7 linked regions of the Homo sapiens genome follow. The protein of the gene in region 5 purifies or fractionates together with the protein of the main gene of each other region. This does not show direct contact. Each region holds a gene or a part of one and is shown on either strand. Other genes may lie near its edges.

Region 1 (3,500 bases), on a different chromosome or scaffold from region 5:
AGTAAAACTCCAGAGGCCATGATTTTTCTGAACTGGAGATTCAAACGTGAAATGTATTAGCAATGAACATTGGAGAGGAAAAACGTTTTTTTAAAAAAATTTGTAAGTTAAAAAAAAAGCAAATACTTAGATTTAAGTCTAACAAAATATGCGCGGAATCTGTAAGCTGAAAACTACAAAGTAACAATGAAAGAAATCAAAGGCAATCTATGTAAAGGAAGATATATGCTATGTCTGGCCAGGTACGGTGACTCACGCTTATAAATCCCAGCACTTTGGGAGGCCAAGGCAGGTGGATCCCTTGAGGTGGCGACACCCTGTCTCTGCTAAAAATACGAAAATTAGTCAGGCATGATGGCGCTCGCCTGTAATCCCAGCTACTGGGGAGGCTGAGGCAGGAGAATTGCTTCAACTCAGGAGGCAGAGGTTGCAGTGAGCCAAGATCATGCTACTAAACTCCAGCCTGGGTAATCTCAGAGCAAGACTCTGTCCTCACCCCCCGCCAAAAAAGATATACGCCATGTTCATAAATTGAAAAGCTATTGTTAAATTCTCCTCAAATTGGTCTAGAAATTTAACACATCACAATCCAAATCTCAGAATTTTTTTAGATATTGATGTTAATATCCTTGCCCATCAGTAGTGACAGAAGCATCGATCTTACCAGCCAAATATAAATGGACTCTCCTTTGTTAAACCCTCAGCAGTCACCCATACAGGACATTCATGTATTAGATTATGTGAAATGACTATAGTCATCCGCTAAATTAATGCAGAACATTAATAATGAAGTTTTATCAGGGCCTTCCATTCACAGGCATAAGAGGTCTTATCAACTGACTTTGATGTTACCTGCCTGGATCTAACCCTGGAGACTAGATCCACATCGACATTCACCAGAGAAAATCACTTGGACCTTGCTCTTTAAGGGGCCACACTAAGTCCTATCTACCCCCCACCACTGCTATAAAGTGCCAGAGCTTTCGGTCTTGGGTCCATGCTTCCCACTGCCAGAGACTTCACTTATTGCCTGCAGCAGACAACATTAGTGAAGCTCTCATTAACCACTCAAGTTTGCTGTCGTCTTCCATGACCTTCCCCATGAAATGGATACAAAGATAAGCATTACACATGGGTATCACTTCCTTGCATTAGCCAATTATCAGGATTTCCACTAGTTATATGTTCACTGGGTAAGATCCTTAAAATTCAGATGTCACAAAGATTAACTAATGGGTTTTCGATCTCGAGGTCATGGACACATCCACCAAGTACCCTGTATATCAGGAATAGATCCTTCTTATCTTTTTTAAGTACTCTAAGAATCAGATTACCAGATCTGTCTTGCCATTTGCTCTGTAACTGGTCTCGTCTTTCCAGCTGGCCCTTTGGGCTGCTAAAAGCAGTTTATCTCACAACCTTTAGTCCTTTGCTACTCAAAGTATGGCTCACAGACCAGCAGCATTAATATCACCAGGAAACTTGTTAGAAATGCAGAATCTCAGGCCCCACTCCAGATCTGCTGAACCAGTCTGCATTTGCTCAAGATCTCCAGGTGATTCGCATCAGGAGCATTGCTTACAAAGATTTAACCTTACTTTCCATTGGTTAAGTGAGTCCTTATCAAGCCAACCCTGATCCAAGAGTAACAATCAAGTTCAGCTGTGCACCACAGCAAATGAGGCATCACCTGATGGTTCTTAATGGGTGGTTGTTCCTATTTGTTGCTTTTGTTGGTCACTGAGAGTTGGTTTTAAGATTAAAGGGACCTTTTTCTCCAAAGGAAGATTTGCCACACCAAAGCAGGAAAGGCAATGGTTTACCAAACAAAAAAACCCTAGGCCCTTTTATAAGTCTAATGTTTACCCAAACACAGAAACATAAGATGTTTCTTTCCTCTATGCTCCAAAATATTAGGTCAGAGTTAGAAAGGAGAATCCATAGGCAGGTAACTTTTTGTTAACACCTTGCAAATGGTGATACTTGCAACGCCTGGCAAATGGTGACGCCTTGGACGTATTACTCAACAAATTTTCCATGGCAGGCCCATGGATCCAACCTCATAGACAATTCCAGTATGTCTGTCTTACATCTGACACTATACGAGGTTTATTGTAACATCCACTAATGGCTTATATAAGTGAGTTAAGCACTTTTAATTACAACTATCCCCCAAAGAAACTGAATTTCCTGTTTCTGTTGATGTGATCATATAGTTTTTCTCCTTTAATCTGTAGAGAGGTAAATTACATATTTTTATTAAAACATCCTCCTGTTCCTGGGAAAGATTCTCCTTTTGCTCATGATACAATATTTTATGCACTGCTACATTCAATGTGCCAATATTTCATCAGCAATTTTTCCATCTATGTTCATAAACAAGATTGGTCTATTAATATTTCACAGTCTTTGCTCAAGTGTAGCTTTGAGATTTTACTAACTTTCTGAAATGGGTTGGGTAGCTTTCTCTCATTTCAAAGTTTCTATAAGACAGGAATTATCAGTTTCTTGATGTTTTGGTAACATTCATCTTTCAAAAATTGTCTTTTGGCGAGGTGGACTTGTGATTACTGATTCCACTTCCTTAGTGGTTGATTTAAATTGTCAAAATCTTAGATGGATCTTCTACTGTTTTCCTAGAAATATATCCATTTCTTCTCCACTTACAAAATTTTTATCATAAAGTTAATGGTATTCTTATGATTATTTTAAATCTCTATTGGTAGTTATGTCCTTTAAAAAAAAATCTAAATACTGTTTATTTGGGCCTTTTCCTTTCCTGACTGGAGGTTTATCTGAAGGGTCCCTTCTGCTGCAGCCTGCAAAGCCTCCATCAAGGGACACCCACTAGCTGGTTGCTGCCACAGCTGTGGCTTTACCTACCCCAGCTAACCCAGCGAGTATTAGTCCATCCCCACACTGCTATAAAGAACTGCCTGAGACGGGGTAATTTATAATAAAAAGGATTGACTCACAGTTCCGCAAGGCTGCAGAAGCCTCCAGAAACTCACAATCATGGTGGAAGGCACCTCTTCACAGGGCAGCAGGAAGAATGAATGCAGGAGGAACTACCAAATACTTATAAAACCATCAGATCTCATGGGAACTATCACGAGAACAGCATGGGAGAAACCAACCCCATGATCCAATTACTTTCATCTGGTCTCTCCCTTAACATGTTGAGATTATAATTCAAGATGAGATTTGTGCGGTGGGGACAGAAAGCCTAACCATTATCAGTATGTTTGCTTGTTTACTTCTATTTTAAACTTTAAAATAAACCCGTAACTTTAGCAGTGCTGTTTTGCTACTCCTCTTAAATTCTCTCATTTTCTTGTGTATTTCATCCTTTTGCTAGTTTTGCACTGGTTACTACTCAGTTTCTTTGTTGTACTGAGTCATTTAAGTATCATTTTGAGAATGGAAAAAAATGTTATTAAGTTCATTATTCCTTATGTATTTACTGAGCATACAATTGTTATAGAAGGCAGAAAGAATTT
Region 2 (3,637 bases), on a different chromosome or scaffold from region 5:
GCAGTGGTGCGAATCATAGCTCACTACAGCCTGGAAGTCCTGGGCTCAAGTGATCCTCCCGCCTCAGCTTCCTGAGTAGCTAGGACTACAGACCCACACCACCACACACGGCTAATTTTACCTTTTTAAATTTTTTGCTGAGACAGAGGTCTCACTATGTTGCCTAGGCTGGTCTTGAACTCCTGGCTTCAAGAGATCATCCAGCCTCAGCCTCCCAAAGTGTTGGGATTACAGGCGTGAGCCACCACACCCAGCCCAGAACTTACCATCTTAACCATTGCTACATGTACAGTTCAGTGGCATTGAGTACATTCACGCTGTTGTGCAAGCATCACCACCATCCATCTCCAGAAGTTTTTCATCTTTCCACCTGAAACTTTGTACCCATGAAACAATGCCTCCCCATTCCATCTTCGTCGCTAGCCCCTGGCAACCTCCCTTCCACTTTGTGTCTCTGCATTTGACTACTCTAGGTACTTCACATAAGTGGAATCATAGTATTTGTCCTTTTATGTCTGGTTTATTTCACTTAGCATAATGACTTCAAGATTCACCCATGTTGCAGCACATATCAGAATGTCCTTCCTTTTTAAGGCCAAATAATATTCCATTGGATGGATAGATCACCTTTTATCTTGATTGATCATTTTAACTTATTTTTCAGTTTCAACCTACAACGTTTATGAGGACAAACTGCAAACTTAATTGCTTTTTAAATAAAATTGATGGCAGGCCAAATCCCTGCTTGCTGTTGTGAATACCTCTACACTGCAAGAATTCCTGGAACAGTGAGTGGGACACCTTTATTCAGACAAATCAGATACTTTGTAATGGAAATCAAGGTGGTATATTACTGTTTTGCTTTGTATTTTGAAGCATCCCTGGGTTCACTGCTGGGATTGCTCCAATCATCGGCTTCAGGCGTGGTCTTGTAATGGCGCCATGCGGACTTATTAAAAACTGGAAGTCTCTCAAATGACTCACTTGAAAGAGCCTATTGGAGAAACAAAAATATACACCAAAGGTCGACAGTGTCATTTTTCTCAAGTGAAATAGTAACCCAAATTTTATTATTTAAAACATCAGAAACCTTAATACATATTTTCAAAATGATATTAAAATTACACCTTAGTAGTTTACTTAGACTGGCCAGGAAAACATTAAAGCTTTTTTAAAGGAATGAAAACATTTGCTCATTCAAAATCAGAACTGAAATACACATGACCAGAACAAAACATATTTTAATTCAGCTCATACTGCTTTGAGATGCTCAACTGTTTTGACTATACCTGGTGACTGGTCTCACAAAGGGCCCAGGAAGAGATACAGTCTCATGCATCCCAGGTTTATAAACACACACCATCAAGTATATTAAATATCGCATTACTTAGATGCATGGGCATCTAAGATAAATACTCCCAGTAACTGGTTAAATTCTGGTATCACATACATAGGTTGAGTATCCCTTTGAAATGCCTGGGAACAGGCCGGGCACAGTGGCTCACACCTGTAATCCCAGCACTTTGGGAGGCTGAGGCAGGTGGATCACCTGAGGTCAGGAGTTCGAGACCAGCCTGGCCAACATGGTGAAACCCTGTCTCTACTAAAAATACAAAAAATTAGCCGGGTGTGGTGGCTCACACCTGTAATCCCAGCTACTCAGGAGGCTGAGGCAGGAGCATGGCTTGAACCCAGGAGGCAGAGGTTGCAGTGAGCCGAGATGGCAGTACTGCACTCCAGCCTGGGTGACAGAGTGAGACTCTATCTCAAAAAAAAAAAAAAAGAAAAAGAAAGAAACAAAAAAAAAGAAAAGAAAGAAAGAAATGCTTGGGACCAGAAGTAGTTCTGATTTTTTCCGATTTTGGAATATTTGCATTGTGCTTACCTGTTAAGCATCCCTAATCTGAAAATCTGAAATCTGGGGTGCTCCAATAAGCATTTCCTTTAAGCTTGACCTTTGAGCAAGCATCACGTTGGCGCTCAAAAAGTTCCAGATTTTCAACCATTTTGGATTGCAGATTCTTGGGTTAGGGATGCTTGACCCACAGTGGCATGTTATGCCACTGTTTAAAAGAATGAGCCAGTTCTACATAAATGGATCTGGAAAGATCTCTAAGACAGATTGCAAAGTAAAAAAAATAAGAAGGTGCTGAAATTTCATTTATGTGGGAAAAATTCTATTTTTCCCATATTTATAAATGTAGAATCAACTCTAGGAGGATCCATAAGACGCTGAGACCGGTGGTGATCTTCGCTGAACAGAACTGGCGGTTTAGGGCCAGTGGGAGGAGAGACTTCATTTTTCCTTTTGTAGCTTTTAAATTTTTATTATGTGCCTATATTACCTATTCAAAAAAATGTTACAAATATTCTAGAGTTTAGAAATAAAAGCCCAATGATCACCAATGAATAAGAAAAACTGTGTTACAGAGAAGTTTGTTATTAAATGAATCTTTTACATAACCATATTATGATTACTGAATTCTTGTAGCTTTGGGAAAGCCAGTGAGTTTTTAAAACAAAAGACCAAAATACTTCAGTTTATGAAAATCTGCCTTCTTTTAGATCAGACCTTTCAATAGGCATGTAGTTTTTTAAGTCACAATTTAAAATTATGGTTTTAAAAATCAGTATTTTAATTTTTTTTTTTCTCTTTTGAGATGGAGTCTCATTCTGTCGCCCAGGCTGGAGTGCAGTGGCACCATCTTGGCTCACTGCAACCTCTGCCTCCCGGGTTCAAATGACTCTCCTGCCTCAGCCTCCTGAGTAGCTGGGACTACAGGCGTGCACCACCACATCAGCTAATTTTTTGTACTTTTAGTAGACATGGGGTTTCACCATGTTGGCCAGGCTGGTCTCGAACTCCTGACCTCAGGTGATCCACCCACCTCAGCCTCCCAAAGTCCTGAGATTACAGGCATGTGCCACCACGCCCGGCCAAAATCAGTATTTTAATTTCTATACCTCCACGTTTCATATTTTGCTTTATCTGAGCATAGAATCAAGCGTGAGGCATAACATGGTTTTCATGGGAAAATGAAGTAAATCTGAGATGAATCTAAGAGATGATACAGTGCTGTTCTCAATCAGCGATTAGAACTTACAGCTTTAAAAAGCAAAGATGCCTCATACTAACAAATAAAACGCAGTACCTTCAAATAAATGACAGCATCAGTACCCACTCCTTCCATGGAATACAGTTTCAGATCTCCTTGAAAATATCTAGCATACAGACGGGAAATTGGCAAACCATAACCAAATCCAGCCTATTGAGAAAAGAAAATTAATACAGTGAGACAGGCACAAATGCTAACACATTTTATATGATGACCATTCAGAGAAGGTTAAAATAAATTCTTGATTCAGATTTAAATCAAATAAATTACTGACTCAACCTTTACAATGATGTATATCCTCTTCTATGGCAAACAACCCCTTTATTTTCACCCTGCAAAAACATGTCTTATATGTTTGGATAATAATAGAAATATTCTAATTTTTGACTAATGCTTTTTTAGCATTTTAAAGCAAAATTTTATCATTTTTTTAAAAGCACATTCCAAGGCCGGGCACAGTGGCTCACGCCTGTAATCCCAGCACTTTGGGAGGCTGAGGCAGGTGGATCACTTGAGGTCAG
Region 3 (2,249 bases), on a different chromosome or scaffold from region 5:
CAAAGTCTTTTTTTCTCTCAGAAACAAGATATTCTTCCATCCATCCAGTCAGATAGGTCAGCAACTTAGATGTCTTTCTGTAACTATTATTTCCTAAATAATTCCCCCAGGCTCTTTCTTTCTCTCCATTTCCACTCCCAATACTCTAATGATTTCCTAATTTATATATGGTAACCACACTGTTCTTTCCTCGCATCCATTGATATCAGCGTAGCCAGAGATGTATTTTCTAGATGTGGATATGATAATTTTATGCCCCTCTTTGACAAACAACCATCAAAGCCTGTAATGAGTTTCTTATCCCTTTAGCATAAAATAGGAAGTTCCTATGTGGTTTACAAGGCTCCTCCTGTTCTGGGATATGCCTTCTACTCCAGGCTCATCATGAACTACTCTGTTTTTAATTTTCCTTTATATATGATTAATATATCTCTAAATTATCTTTCCTATGTGTAACTGGACACTTGCCCTTTCCAGAGAGAAAACAGGTAAAGCAAAAATGATTTTATGTCATTATTTTATTGATGATGTGTTTTATAGAATCACAAAATTTAGAAACATAAGAAGGATTTAGGTATCACCTAAATTCAAAGAAATGTGTGTTTCTAGGTTGCTAAATTTGAAGAGAAAGTATGATTTGGTTTGGTTCATTTAAAACAGGTCAGAAACAGAATTATATTTCAAATTTAGAAGACACGGTATTAAATGATTCATCTTATCTTGGACATTTTTCCTCAAGGGAAATTTTTCTGGAAGGAAAAGTACATTTATATGTGGGCTTATTAAGAGAAAGAGAGAAAGGCATGCTATTTTAATCATTAAATTCTTGATGATGACTATCATCATCAAGATGAGATAGAAAAGAAATATGAGCCAAGAGAATCTGTTGTTGCCAGCAATCAGTTTACCAGAACACCTCTAGGTGAACATTTTCTAAATGGAGTGACAGACTAATTGCATCTATGGGGATGAGAATCTGCCATAGAAGAGGATGCTGTTGGTCTTATTTTGCCTTATGAAGAATAGGAAAGGGTGATTACAACAGAACTCTTCATTAGTTGAAGGAGATGATAATTCGACTACTACTACAGCGGTGGCAGCTGCAGCTTCCACTCCCTCCTCAGTGACCTCCACAAAGGCCTTGTGTAGGACTTTAGATACTGAGAGACCGTGGCTCCAGGTCATGCCTGAGAGGTCTGCATCCCCATTGAAGATATTCACCATTCCCATGGTTCTCAACGTGTCCTTGAGGTCATAGCTCTCTTCCATTTTGAACCGAGGTAAGTGTAAATCGACACATGTCTCTCTCATATTCTGCAAACTTGTCCATTCCATCAATTTCTCAGCAGTGAGTTTCTCTTCAAGCTATACAAATGGAAAAAAGAAACTGATATGACTAACTGTCGATCTCTAATACACCTTAACAATGAATTGACTATGTGGAGATTCGTTATTTTGGCAATAAATGTGAAATACAGAAGGTTCACTTTAATAGACATTATTATTCTAATAGGTAAAATATGAGTCCTGAATATATAAATACATTGGGTTATATGTGTATATGTATATACATGTATGTAAAAACAGAATCATGTTTTTACGTATATGTATATGTGTACATATGTATGTATACAACTGTATGATACACATGTAAAATATGATTACATTATTTTGTACACAATGAACTGTATGTATCACTATTTCTTGTGCCAACAGCCTACTACATGTGTCAATTTTTAATAGGCTCATCATATTTTTCTGTATACATTATTTAGTACACATTGCAATTATTAAATTGTAATTCCCTAAATTCCTAAATTTGTATTCCCTTTTCTACTCGGCCTATTTGTAAACTTTCCTCACATTGGTATATATTTCTCCCAGTCAAGTTTAAATTGCTGCATAATAATATCATCAAATTGATATCCAATGCATGTAACTCTAATAAATTAATCATTAACTAAGCCATAGATGGAATTAAATCATAGATGGGAATTGAACAATGAGAACACTTGGACACAGGAAGGTAACATCACACTCTGAGGACTGTTGTGGGGTGGGGGGAGGGGGGAGGGATAGCATTAGGAGATATACCTAACGCTAAATGACGAGTTAATGGGTGCAGCACACCAGCATGGCACATGTATACATATGTAACTAACCTGCACATTGTGCACATGTACCCTAAAGCTTAAAGTATTATAATAATAATAATAAAAACAAACAAACAAACAAAAACTAAGCTTTCA
Region 4 (3,503 bases), on a different chromosome or scaffold from region 5:
TACTATGTGTCTTTCTTGAATTTTCATATGGACTATTGTGTCAACATATGGTGTTAAAAAAAAAGTTATTAACTAAGATATTAGTGAAGCCTTCCTCACATAAGAATATCAGGCTGCTGGCCAGGTGCGGTGGCTCACACCTGTAATCCCAGCACTTTGGGCAGCCTAGGCAGGTGGATCACTTGAGGTCAGGAGTTCGAGACCAGCCTGGCCAACATGGCAAAACGCTGTCTCTACTAAAAAATACAAAAATTAGATGGGTGTGGTGGCGCATGCCTGTAGTCCCAGCTATGTGGGAGGCTGAGGCAGGAGAATTGCTTAAACCCAGGAGGCGGAGGTTGCAGTGAGCCGAGATCGCACCACTGCACTCCATCCTGGGCGACAGAGCGAGACTCCATCTCTTTAAAAAAAAAAAAAAAAAAGGGAAGAATATCAGGCTGCTGAATTCAAAATGCCAGAGATGTAAATGCCCTCCGCCTTCTTACTGCCATCCCCCAGCATGGCACATTTCAAGATATTAAGGGATGGGAGTCAGGAGGAGCTGTAATTAAGCTGATTGGAACCTATTGTGCTGCTCTGGAGCACAGACACCAAGCAGCCTTAGGGAATGAGTGCCTCAAGATCACTGGGAAATGATGTCCTCTTTTCCAGAAAATAACGTAGCAGAAATACTCAATCTATACTATTTCTCCCTTTCTTTGTTTTCCATCTCCCCTCCCCAATTTAATTGTGGTGCTTACTGTGTACCTTTAAAACTGACTTTTATCATGCATTTGTTTCTTAACAGTTGCGAGAAAGAATCAAAGCTGGCAAAGGTGTGACTTCAGCTATTGACCTGTGTCGTTACCATGGAAACAAGGCACTGGAGGCCCTGGAGAGCTTTCCTCCCTCGGAGGCCAGATCTGCTTTAGAAAACATTGTGTTTGCTGTGACCAGATTTTCATGACATCAAATTAAAAAGACACTATTGTTAGTTAGCTGAAAATCCTAGGGAATGAGGTTGATTGGGAGCGCTTTCACGATGCGTTAATGACTTTTAAAACATATGCATTTTTCCTTCCTTTTATCACATTGCTAAATGAGTTCTGCTTTCTTTTTGGAACTGCTACAAACAAAATTAGAAGAAAAAAAGGTCAAGCAGTTTTCACTTGTCACGCCAGAAGCACACTTGAGGCTGCAGTCGCAGAAATAATTAATGAGATTCGCTCCTGTGACCTCAGCAAATGGACAGGAAATAAGTCCTTATTGATTGGACCGAGCCAGGGATGGCGCCAGGGCGGTGGCCTGTGGTTTTTCCTGCTAGAGAGGACAAAGCAAGTTGGAAGCTGCAGGTGTCAAGAGAAATGCTCTCAATACCAACCAGGGAGGATTGTCTAATCAAAAACTAGTGACCAATTTGTCATAATGGAGAGTAGTTCAATGGATTGAGAAAAATATGTTTTATTTGTTGGCTTGTAATTATGTCTCTGGATTATTATTATTTTTTTTTTAGATGTAGTTTTGCTCTTGTTGCCCAGGCTGGAGTGCAATGGTGCAGTTTTGACTCACTGCAACCTCCGCCTCCTGGGTTCAAGTGATTCTCCTGCCTCAGCCTCCCGAGTAGCTGGAATTACAGGCACCTGCCACCACGCCTGGCTAATTTTGTATTTTTAGTAGAGATGGGGTTTCACTATGTTGGTCAGGCTAGTCTCGAACTCCTGACCTCAGGTGATCCGCCTGCCTCGGCCTCCCAAAGTGCTGGGATTAGAGGCTTGAGCCACTGCACCTGGCCTCATGTCTCTGGATTTATAATGCAGTATGAATATACTTTGTGCTTTATGGTTTTTATAATGTCTTTTTGGAGAAATTGCCGAAAAGTTGCCAAATACTTGAAGTAGGAGATTAAAATGTTATCAAATGTTAAATTGGTTATATTAGGAATAGTCTGTTTTTCTTTCCTGAAGATCAGTTTTTTTATTCAAACACATTTCAAAGAACCAAATTTTTTTTTTCTTTAAGGAAAAAGGAGCTTTTTTTCAAGTGAAATGTATTCATTTGTAATACTTTGGTTTAAGGCATACTTTAATTTTTACGAGTTTCAGAAACAGAATTTTTGTACTAGGGAATTCATTGGTGAGAGTGTTCTTTTAACCTCAGAATGTCAAATTTTGGTCTTGAACCACAGACATCCAATTACAGAAAGAATATAAGCAATCTCACAGGCCTGCAATCGGACACTGTCTCTGTGTGGTTCATAGGAGATGATTTTTGAGGTTTGCACTCATGCAATTTGAGAACACCGTTGACAAGAAGGCTGAGTTTACATAAATGATCTAGATTGAAACTCAGCTACCTTTCTTCCTCATGTGGTGTAATTACAGCCCTATCTGGAGACAGCGAATACAGCAAACAGATTTTATTACCTAGTTCGCTCAAACACTACATGAAGTTATTTTAGTTAAAGCCCTCCCCCAAAAGTTATAAAACCATTTTATCAGGGCCCAACATGTGGCATGCAATGAAGAGAAAATGTAAAGCTACAGAGGTTAATGTATTGTATTATAAAATATTTTAAGTGTACTCAAAATATCATAATTGTACAGTTTATGCCACCATAATTTGAGGCCTATAGATTTAGCTTAAGAGAACACTGTTCTGTTTGAAATGCTTTCTGTCACTGAAATTGGCTTAATTAGTAACCATGGATAAGATGCTTTAGATCAGACTAGGTTTTAATCATTAACTTCCACAAAGAAGTCATACTTTGCGTTAGGTGTGCTGGTTGGATGTGCAGGAACTTCAGCAAGCAGTAGGTTTTACTAAGCAGATGGTCGGGCACTGCAGGGCACCAGGCAGGATCCTAGGGCGCCTCTTATTCTGCGTTAGCATCTGGTTTGCTGTATGACCTTGCACAAGTCACTTCCTTCTGAGCCTCAATTTTCTCATCTGTACAATGAGATTCAAAAGTTGACCTGAAAGTCAAGTGTGAAAAAAAAAAAGAGATTAAACAAGATAATTATGAAATTCTTTCCAGGTTTGTTTTATTTTCTGAAAGTTTACTATTCTTGACTGTCTAAATAGCAAAGATGCTGTGTGAGGTTCAGGGAGGAGGGAAGGTGAAACCCAAAGAGAGGCCCTGAAGGAATGGAGAGAGCTTAATGGCAAGCTTCCTGCCAAGCTGCCTCTGCATGACCTAAAGGATTCCAGCTCTCCTATGTGACATGTAACCCTGGACTTTTCTGTCTCAACACCTGCCTTGCTGCTTTCTTCGGGACCTTTCCTACCTCCCTGTCATCTTCCCAGCTGCTCTCGTGTCCTTTATCCCATCTCCTGTACCTTGCCATCCTGACTCCCTGGAACCTGGATCCCTGGGAGCAGTAGCCCCCTGCTGCCTGCTGAGTGACAGAGCTCTGCCTCCCCCACAGGGGTGGCTGGCCTCCTTCCTCAGGCCCCACTTAGCAGAATTCTCACTTCCTCAGCATCACGGCAGGCTTTTACAGAACATAACAAGTTGGCTAGTTCAC
Region 5 (3,500 bases):
TACTCAGGCTGGGGCTTCCAGGCGTGTGGCTGTGACAAAGTGCTGAGCTCTAAGGGCCCAAGAGTGACATGGCGCCTCTCCCAGGCAGAAGCACCCCCGCCCCGCCATAGCCATGTCCTCCACAGGCTCTCCCAGGTGTGGTGCACTCAGGAGGTGTAGAGGGCCGAGCCCCACTCAGAGCCCCAGCAGAGGAGCTCCCCAGAGGCCTTGTGCCTGAGTAAGAAGAGCCCTGAGCCTGGAGCCTGACAGCTTTCATTTTGGGTCCAGGAGCACAGTCTGGAACAAATCGCTTGCCCTCTCTGAGTCTCTGTCTTCTCATCTCTAAAATGGAGGGAAGCCAAAACAGGCCCAGAGCCTGGCACCAAAGAGGAGCTTCATAAAGCACTTAGGGGTGTGCTGCCCCGGGTACCCCCATTTCCCCGCAAATGCTTCCACCACAACCAGGATGGTTACAGGGCTGTTCTAAGTTCACTGGCAAAGGAAAATGGAGGTTTGGGGTATTCTGACAGAATAGAACAAAGGTAAGATCCAGGGGCCCAGGGACCTGGGTTCCAAACCCGATCCTACTCCCCACCCACCATGCAGAGTCACCCAGGAGGCACGGACCTTGGGAACCAGAGGCCGTGTATCCTGGAAGCCTGGTTCTTGGTGTGTGCTCACCAAGCAGCTCTGCTCCTACTGGTCAGTGGCAACCTCTCACTCCAGACAGACAGCCCATTCCCCAATCCCCATCCCCACCCCAGACAGAAAGCCTGTCCCCCAGTCAGCATCACCCGGGTGGAGGTGAAACAGAGGAATGCGGAAGACAACAAACCTCAGGGGCAGGCTGAGGAGACCCTCTGGTCTCCACAAAAGCCCAGGGACTGAGCTCAGGCTGGTAGCCTGGTTCAGCACTGGCCTGGAAGGGGCCGGGGGAATGGCAGAGCCTCCAGGGTTGGAGCCGGGGCAGCAGGGGGTGGGGCACAAAGGGCCTTGTCCCTAACTTACCTACCAATCAATCTCTTGAGCAGCCCAGCCACGACGCTGCCCATGCTGAACCGGCCGCTGTTGAGGATGTTCATGGCCACCTGCAGGGAGAACAGGGAGAGCCCAGGGGCCCTGAAGGAGGCAGAGGGAGGAGGCCGCAACGAAACCAGGCCAGGTGGATCAGCTTGCCTTCCCTCAAGCTGGGAGAAAGCACCATCCTAATGCCTCAGAACAAGGTGGTTCAGTCACTGTTGCAGCTCTACCAACATCCCCACACACAAGACCACTGAACGTTATTCCAAAGGACCATGCCAGAGCTGGGCATGGTGGCTCCCACCTGTAGTACCAGCATTTTGGAAGGCCAAGGCAAGAGGATCGCTTGAGCCCAGGAGTTCAAGACCAACTTGGGCCAAACAGAAATTCTACTTTTAGGCATAAATCAAAATACCTGAAAACGTTATTTCCACATTAAAACTTGACATGAATGTTCATAAGTAGCATTACTGATAGCAGCCAAAAGCGGTAACAACCCCAATGTCCATCAGCTGGTGAATGGATGAACAAAATGTGGTATCTCCACTCAACAGAAGAGAATTCAGCCATAAAAGGAATGAATTACTCATTCATGCTATGAGAGAGATGAACCTTGAAAACATCACGCAATGTGAGAGAAGCCTGTCACCAAAGACTGGATCTTGTATATGACTGCATTTTTATGAAATGTTCCAAACAGGCAAATCCATAGGGACATAAAGTAAAAGAGTAGCAGCCAAGGGATGGGGTAAGGGTCATACTGGATGGTACAACATTTCTTTTTGGGGTGAGGAAATGTTCTGTGTGAGATATTTGAACAACATAGTGAATATACTAAAAACCACTGAAATAATATTTTAAAATGGTGAGTCCTTTGTCATATGAATCATCTCTTGATAAAAATAAGTCTTAGTCCAAAAAGAAAAGAGTAGGGCAGCGATGCAGACCAGGGTTGTGGTACACAGAGCTTGAGATTCACCAGAGCCCACAGGCTGCTTTCTCATACCCACTGCAGAAGGGAATCTTAGCCTCCGCTCGAGGCGAATAGGGCCTCAGAGGTGAAGGGAAATTCCTAATCCTTACCATACACTTCTTCTAGGAGCCAGCCAATTTTCCAGTGTCCATTTTGCCAATTTCCCAACAGATAACCATGCAAAGTCACCTGCCATGCACAGGCTACTCTGCTACGAGCAGGGATAGGGCAAAAGCTGGGGGCGACAAACTGCACTCATGACACTACCTGGTACAAGGGGCTGTGGCTGGCAACTCACCTTAAACCCATCTCCGACCTCTCCAAGGATGTTTTCCACAGGTATCTTGGTGTTTTCAAAATGGACTTCACAAGCTGAAACACATGAAATTTAAGATATCATCTGACAATGCAAACCACTCTGCATCTGACCTGCAAGCAGGCAATTCATCCATCCATCCATCCATCCATCCATCCAATGTTTGGTAGGACAGTATAGAAAGACAAAGTTCCTATCTTTGTGGAGGCTCATACTTTGATTTGGGAGACAAAAGCTATAAACAAAACAATGTAATATTGTGATCAGTGCTATGGATGAAATAAATAGGGCATCACGATAAAGAGAAATGGAGGTTGGCAAGGGGGTGGATAATAATATTTTTATTAAGGACTATGTCAGACTTTTCTAAGGTGACATTTAGCAGAAGTTTAAGAATGAAAAGAACCAGGCATATAAAGAGCCAGAACAAGCAAAGTGAGGGAAAGAACAGCATTTCCTGAAGCCTTAGGGTAGACTGGGACCACTGGTCTCAATTCTTAACTCTAACACAATCACACCCCTGCAATCTAACTGTAGCACTCTCCCACTGTGAGGAGGGATGGACCTCCCTCCCTTTCCCTGCCTGCTAGGTATGACCATGTGACTTCCTGTGGCCAATACAAAGAGCTGACCCAACATGAACAGAGACCTTAAATGTGTTTTAGGGTCAGTCGGGTATGGTGGCTCATGCCTATAATCCCAGCATTTTGGGAGGCAGAGGCAGGAAGATCACTTGAACCCAGGAGTTCGAGACCAGCCAGGACAACATAGCAAGACCTCATCTCTATTTAAAAAAAAAAAAAAAAAGGCCGGGTGCGGTGGCTCACGCACTTTGGGAGGCCGAGGTGAGCGGATCACGAGGTCAGGAGATCGAGGCCATCCTGGCTAACATGGTGAAACCCCATCTCCACTAAAAAATAGAAAAAATTAGCCGGACGTGGTGGCAGGCAGCTGTAGTCCCAGCTATTCGGGAGGCTGAGGCAGGAGAATGGCGTGAACCCGGGAGGCGGAGCTTGCAGTGAGCCAAGATAGTGCCACTGCACTCCAGCCTGGGCGACAGAGCGAGACTCCGTCTCAAAAAAAACAAACCAAAAAAAAGTGGCCAGGTATGGTAACTCACACGTGTAATCCTAGCACTTTGGGAGGCTGAGGCAGGTAGACTGCCTGAGCTCAGGAGTTCAAGACAAGTCTGGGCAACATGTTGAAACCCCA
Region 6 (2,208 bases), on a different chromosome or scaffold from region 5:
CATATCAAACCTAAATTATTGATCTTCCACCTGTTCTCATTTCTTCTGTCCTGTCTCTTGTTGAGTCACAACAGCTGTTCCCCATGCTCTGCGTGGTAACATTCCACATGGTACTCCATAAAAGCCTGATATAGATGACCTCTCTATAACAGAACTGCAATTATTCTTGTCATGCTTCAGTTGTTTCTGTGGCTCTCCTCTGGACTCTCTCCAAATTCTCCTGCTCAGTTTTAGCAAGCTGGCCTGGAGTTCTCTCACACGGTCTGGCTAGCACAGTAATTTGCTTGTGGTTAAAAGCCTTTGTGCTCAGTACTGAGACTGCCACATAATGAATTTTCATTTCCATTTTATTCTGAACTTGCAAACATCAGAGATTCGTGCTATCTTCAGTGTTTAAGTGGTAATGCCTTTTGTAAAATAAAGGAGGCTGCAGGCCAGGCACCGTGGCTCATGCCTGTAATCCCAAAGCTTTGTGAGGTGGAGGCGGGCAGATCACTTGAGGTCAGGAGTTCGAGACCAGCCTGGCCAACATGGCGAAACCCCATCTCTGCTAAAAATAGAAAAATTAGCCAGGCGTGATGGTGCATGCCTGTAATCTCAGCTACTTGGGAGTTGAGGAATGAGCACTGTTTGAACCCAGGAGACGGAGGTTGCAGTGAGCAGAGCCGAGATCGCACCACTGCACTCTAGTCGGGGTGACAGAGTGAGACTCCATCTCAAAAATTAAAAAAAAAAAAAAAAAAAGCCTGTGGTTATTTTGATGGGATAGCAAGGATAACATGAACCATGTAAGGTTTGGCATAAATAGTTCATAGTTGACCTGGTCTGTCTGACTGTCTGAGATGTCACTGAGTCATTTGATGACCTTGAAATGCTAAAGCATTGGAATGAATGTCTGTAGATCAGGACAGAGGTGGGTTCAGAGAACTATTTAGGAGACATCTGGGTGGGAGTTGTGGCCAACACTGATTACAGGTGAGCACTGGGGAAAAAAGCCAGGATTGCAAGGAGTTAAAGATCACCCATTCAAGAAGTTTGGCAGAAGGAGCAAGACAGGAAATTTATTCATTTAGTGGCAGTCAGAGGTAACAATATAAGAAAAGCATTCTGAGTCTTCTTTTAGGCAAACTGAAATTTGCCATTAGAGAAGGGAGTTCTTTGTTTTTCGTTTGTTTTAGGGACTATTTAAAAAATAAGAACATTTGTGTCTTATTAGTTAAGGCAGCACTATCCAATAGAATTTTCTGTGATGATGGAAACAGTCTACATCTGTGCTATCTGGTATGGTGCTATAAGCCACATGTAGCTATTTAAATTTAAATTTAATTAGTGTGGCTACTGAGCAATTGAAATGTGGCTAGTATATCTGAGTTGAATTTTGATTAATTAAAATTAAAATTTAAATTTAAATAGCTACATGTGGCTAGAGGCTACTGCATTAGACAGCTCAGAGTTCGAGTTTTACTAACTAGACTTGCAGATTAATCTCAAAATATTAATGTCTTAAAACAATAAAAGTGTATTATTCAACTATCACATCCAAACCAATTGGTGCTAGGGTGTAGGGAGGGGAGCATTCTGCTCTGCCTAGTCATTTGGAACACTGGCTCCTTCTATCTTGTGTGGTGCCATCTTCAACCTTGAAGGGTGCATGTTGGAGGGGAAGAGATAGAATATGAAGAATCTCTTGAGAAGTGTTATGGGCCATGTCTGGAAATGGCCTACATTACTTCAACCCATATACCCATATTCTAATAGTTACAAATAAATGACATGGCTCTACCTAACTGCAGGCTGAAAGAAAAGGAACAAGGTTTATGGACACATAACATTACCCTGCCACAATGAAATTTGTAGAGGTCTGGGATCAGTCTCTAATACCTCCTCCATAAGGAAATGGAAATAAATTTTAATCAGTGTGCTAAGGGAGTAAATCTGGTACAGTTCTGGATGTGAGGAAGAGACTGAAGGATCAAAGTGGGGCAATGGGGGTTCAACATGGGGCAGGGATCAGGAGGAAGAGATGGAATAAATAATAGAGGACAGAAAACAGTTGGTATTTGCTGATGGAGAACCACTTCTCGGAAAGAGAAACAAAAAGAAAGTGTGAGAATAGAAATTTTGAGGTGAAAAGGAGAGAAATTCAAGGTTCTTAGATTGAATCACTTTGTCTGCTCTGAGGTTATTTGCTTATTATGACAAGCCTGG
Region 7 (3,500 bases), on a different chromosome or scaffold from region 5:
ACAACATACAAGAAGGCAAAGAGGTGCACAGACTTGCGCTCAGCATCAGAGGGATGCCTCACATCTTTCCGGAAATGGGTGGAGCATGAAGAATGATTAAGTCAAAGAAAGTGGAGCTCGGCTGACTGTTTTGTTTGAAGCAGATGCTGCAGCCAGGCTGTGCTGTGCGTATGCACTTCTTTCTGGGGAAGGTTCACACCTTGCATCACATCCTTACAAGCCACGTCTCAACGAGACTGGGAAGGGCTGGGCGCAGTGGCTCACGCCTGTAATCCCAGCTACTTGGGAGGCTGAGGCAGGAGAATTGCTTGAACCTGGGAGGCGGAGGTTGCAGTGAGCCGAGATCGTGCCACTGCACTCCAGCCTGGGTGACAGAGTGAGACTCCGATAAATAAACAAATAAATAAATGGCCCTTAAGCATCTGAAAAATGTTCCACCTCACTCAGAAAGGAGAGATGTAAATTAAAACTCCACTGCAATACATTCTCCTCTACTGGACTGGCAAAAACTCAAGCGTGTAATGGCACATTTAGTTAGTAAGGCTGTGGGAAAAGAGGTTCCGAAAAGCTGCTGGTGGAAACACATACTGGTACAGACCCAACAGAGGGAAATCTGGTGGTGCCTAACAAAACCACATGTGCAATTACCCCTAAATTCACCCTGCAGGCACTCCTCTCACAACACAAAAATAGGTTTATGCACGATCAGCCCTTGCAGTAGTGTTTGTAATTGTAAAACTGGAAACCTAAATGCCCATGTATAGAAGATTGGCTGAATAAACCATGCTATGTCCACATAATGGGATCTGATACAGAGGCTTTTAAAAAAATTTTTAAATTATTTATTTATTAATTTTTTTGAGATGGAGTCTCACTTTGTCGCCCATGCTGGAGTGCAGTGACGTGATCTTGGCTCACTACAACCTCCACCTCCCGGGTTCAAGCTATTCTTGTGCCTCAGCCTCCCGAGTAGCTGGGATTACAGGCACCCACCACCATACCTGGCTAATTTTTGTACTTTTAGTAGAGATGGGGTTCCACCATGTTGGCCGGCCTGGCCTTGAACTCTGGTCTCAAGTGATCCGCCTGCTTTGGCCTCCCAAAGTGCTGGGATTACAGGTGTGTGCCACCACGCCCAGCTAATTTTTGTATTTTTAGTGGAGAAGGGGTTTCACCATGTTGGCCAGGCTGGTCTCGAACTCCTGACCTCGTGATTCGGCCGCCTCAGCCTCCCAAAGTGCTGGGATTACAAGCCCAGCCCTGATACAGTGGTTTTAAAAATGAGGAAGATCCTACAAACCAATGTGGAATCATTTTCCTAATAAATTGTTAACTGAAGAAATGCAAAAGGAAAGCAGAGTAGTCTAGGGTACTACTTCTTGCTGTGAGAAAGAAGGGAAGATAGCATACTTGTGTCTGCCTGTTTGTGCTAAACGAAACCCAGGAAGGAGGAACCAGAAGTGAACGAGACTGCTTACCTACAAGGGGGTAGGGGAAGAAAACAGGGCAAAAGGGAGAGTTACTGTATTGTATAGTTCTGACTTTTGGAGCTACATTAATGTCTTTTATTTTTTTTATTATTATTATTTTTTTAGACAGAGTCTCACTCTGTTGCCAGGCTGGAGTGCAGTGGTGTGATCACAGCTCACTGCAGCCTCGACCTCCCAGGGCTCAGGTGATCCTCCCACCTCAGCCTCCCAGGTAGCTGGGACTTCAGGTGTGCACTACCACACCCAGCTAATTTTTGTATTCCTTGTAGACAGAGGTTTCGCCATGTTGCCCAGGCTGGTCTCAAACTCCTGGGCTCAAGCAATCCATCTGCCTTGGCCTCCCAAAGTGCTAGGATTACAGGCATGAGACACTGTGCCCAGCCACGTTGTTTCAAACATTCAAAACAACAGCAACAATAACAAAACGCTCAAAACCAAAACACGAAATCAGCAAGAATGAGAGGGAATCCCTAAAGTGGAATAAAAATGAATCCAACTAGGCTGGGCGCGGTGGCTCACACCTGTAATCCCAGCACTTTGGGAGGCCGAGGTGGGCGGATCACGAGGTCAGGAGATCGAGACCATCCTGGCTAACACCATGAAACCCCATCTCTACTAAAAATACAAAAAATTAGCCGGGCGTGGTAGCGGGCACCTGTAGTCCCAGCTACTCGGGAGGCTGAGGCAGGAGAATGGCGTGAACCCGGGAGGCAGAGCTTGCAGTGAGCTGAGATAGTGCCACTGCACTCCGGCCTGGGCGAAAGAGCAAGACTCCGTCTCAAAAAAAAAAAAAAAAAAAAAAAAAAGGAACCAACTATTAACCCATTTATGCTGGAGGTTGCAAATTTGTTTTGTGAAAAATCAGACCTTGGTAATGACCTTGAGCAGTAGGATAGAAATAACTCCACAAGCTTAGCATTCCAATAATGGAACACTAGGCATAAATGGGTTAATATATTCCAAATAATAACACAACCACACTGATACGTAGAGAAAGGTAACTTTTGAACAGTGCTTTGATTCTATTATCCTCAGGCCCAAGACAAAAGGAATGATAAATACTGAATTCTAGCTACTGGGTTTGTTTTTCACAGAGATATGAGTCATGAATTTGTAAACTCCTATGGTATATTCTCAGATTGTGCAAATAAATACACCGCGGAGAAGAGGAGCCAGGTCTCTCACTGTTTGGGAAGGGGGTTACAAATATGGAAAGATGGAATCCTGGAATAAACCACAAATCCTGTGGTGTTAGATGGATTTGGAACTATCTGTTTGATACCTCGTGGTTTTGAATAAGTATGGATGGGTACAGAAAGATATACACGTATCTACCTACATTACATATAATACATACATGTATTTCCTAGCTCTGTCCATTGAGTGGGTCTAGAAACGATGACACCCAGTACTCAAATTCTGGTTTCTTAACACCATTTTCCACCAAAAGGAATGTGGGCTCCTTGGAGAACAGTGAATAACAGGGCTGAATATCTCCTGCCAGAAATGGGGTGCTGAAAAAATGATGGAGGACACAGAGCCAGGTTAAAGGGCCTCCCCTACTGGCCATACGTTGGATAATTGAGTATTAAAATAATGACAGTGTTATAATCTACAGAATAAAATAAGATGGCTGGGCACGGTGACTCACGCCTATAATCCCAGCACTTTGGGAGGCCGAGGTGGGCGATCACTTGAGGCCAGGAGTTTGAGACCAGCCTGGGCAAAATGGCAAAACCCCGTCTCTACTAAAAATACAAAAAAGTCATCCGGGTATGGTGGCAGCCGCATGTAATCCCAGCTACTCAGGAGGCTGAGGTGGGAGGATCACCTGAGCCCGGGAGGTGGAGGTTGCAGTGAGCTGAGATTGCACCACTGCACTCCAGCGTGGGTGACAGAGTGATACCCTGGCTCAAAAAAAAAAAAAAAAAAAAAAGATACAGAATAAAATAAGAATCCAAGAGCCCATACAGTTAAGAGCTTCCTTACAATGGAATACCAACTCTTCAG

What was found.
Region 1: the proteins of ACAD9 (region 5) and PDK1 purify together in Homo sapiens (affinity purification with mass spectrometry; 2 studies listed by BioGRID and IntAct, with this or other methods). This does not show direct contact.
Region 2: the proteins of ACAD9 (region 5) and PDK3 purify together in Homo sapiens (affinity purification with mass spectrometry; 2 studies listed by BioGRID and IntAct, with this or other methods). This does not show direct contact.
Region 3: the proteins of ACAD9 (region 5) and SERPINB4 purify together in Homo sapiens (affinity purification with mass spectrometry; 2 studies listed by BioGRID and IntAct, with this or other methods). This does not show direct contact.
Region 4: the proteins of ACAD9 (region 5) and PDSS2 purify together in Homo sapiens (affinity purification with mass spectrometry; 2 studies listed by BioGRID and IntAct, with this or other methods). This does not show direct contact.
Region 6: the proteins of ACAD9 (region 5) and DBT purify together in Homo sapiens (affinity purification with mass spectrometry; 3 studies listed by BioGRID and IntAct, with this or other methods). This does not show direct contact.
Region 7: the proteins of ACAD9 (region 5) and PDSS1 purify together in Homo sapiens (affinity purification with mass spectrometry; 3 studies listed by BioGRID and IntAct, with this or other methods). This does not show direct contact.

What each region holds. Positions count from the first base shown.
Region 1 is NC_000002.12:172,601,090-172,604,589, reverse strand, and holds part of PDK1 ([Pyruvate dehydrogenase (acetyl-transferring)] kinase isozyme 1, mitochondrial isoform 2 precursor), read right to left. Parts: 3' UTR 1-3,500. UniProt on the Homo sapiens protein: Kinase that plays a key role in regulation of glucose and fatty acid metabolism and homeostasis via phosphorylation of the pyruvate dehydrogenase subunits PDHA1 and PDHA2.
Region 2 is NC_000023.11:24,531,286-24,534,922, reverse strand, and holds the end of PDK3 (pyruvate dehydrogenase kinase, isozyme 3 isoform 2 precursor), read right to left. Parts: intron 3,267-3,637; coding exon 3,153-3,266; intron 995-3,152; coding exon 851-994; 3' UTR 501-850; downstream 1-500. UniProt on the Homo sapiens protein: Inhibits pyruvate dehydrogenase activity by phosphorylation of the E1 subunit PDHA1, and thereby regulates glucose metabolism and aerobic respiration. Can also phosphorylate PDHA2.
Region 3 is NC_000018.10:63,636,759-63,639,007, forward strand, and holds the end of SERPINB4 (serpin B4), read right to left. Parts: intron 1,366-2,249; coding exon 961-1,365; 3' UTR 501-960; downstream 1-500. UniProt on the Homo sapiens protein: May act as a protease inhibitor to modulate the host immune response against tumor cells.
Region 4 is NC_000006.12:107,152,062-107,155,564, reverse strand, and holds the end of PDSS2 (all trans-polyprenyl-diphosphate synthase PDSS2), read left to right. Parts: intron 1-787; coding exon 788-946; 3' UTR 947-3,003; downstream 3,004-3,503. UniProt on the Homo sapiens protein: Heterotetrameric enzyme that catalyzes the condensation of farnesyl diphosphate (FPP), which acts as a primer, and isopentenyl diphosphate (IPP) to produce prenyl diphosphates of varying chain lengths and participates in the determination of the side chain of ubiquinone.
Region 5 is NC_000003.12:128,900,120-128,903,619, reverse strand, and holds part of ACAD9 (complex I assembly factor ACAD9, mitochondrial), read right to left. Parts: intron 2,345-3,500; coding exon 2,271-2,344; intron 1,068-2,270; coding exon 992-1,067; exon of another isoform or gene 988-991; intron 1-987. UniProt on the Homo sapiens protein: As part of the MCIA complex, primarily participates in the assembly of the mitochondrial complex I and therefore plays a role in oxidative phosphorylation.
Region 6 is NC_000001.11:100,188,627-100,190,834, forward strand, and holds part of DBT (lipoamide acyltransferase component of branched-chain alpha-keto acid dehydrogenase complex, mitochondrial isoform 1 precursor), read right to left. Parts: 3' UTR 1-2,208. UniProt on the Homo sapiens protein: The branched-chain alpha-keto dehydrogenase complex catalyzes the overall conversion of alpha-keto acids to acyl-CoA and CO(2).
Region 7 is NC_000010.11:26,728,701-26,732,200, reverse strand, and holds part of PDSS1 (all trans-polyprenyl-diphosphate synthase PDSS1), read right to left. Parts: intron 1-3,500. UniProt on the Homo sapiens protein: Heterotetrameric enzyme that catalyzes the condensation of farnesyl diphosphate (FPP), which acts as a primer, and isopentenyl diphosphate (IPP) to produce prenyl diphosphates of varying chain lengths and participates in the determination of the side chain of ubiquinone.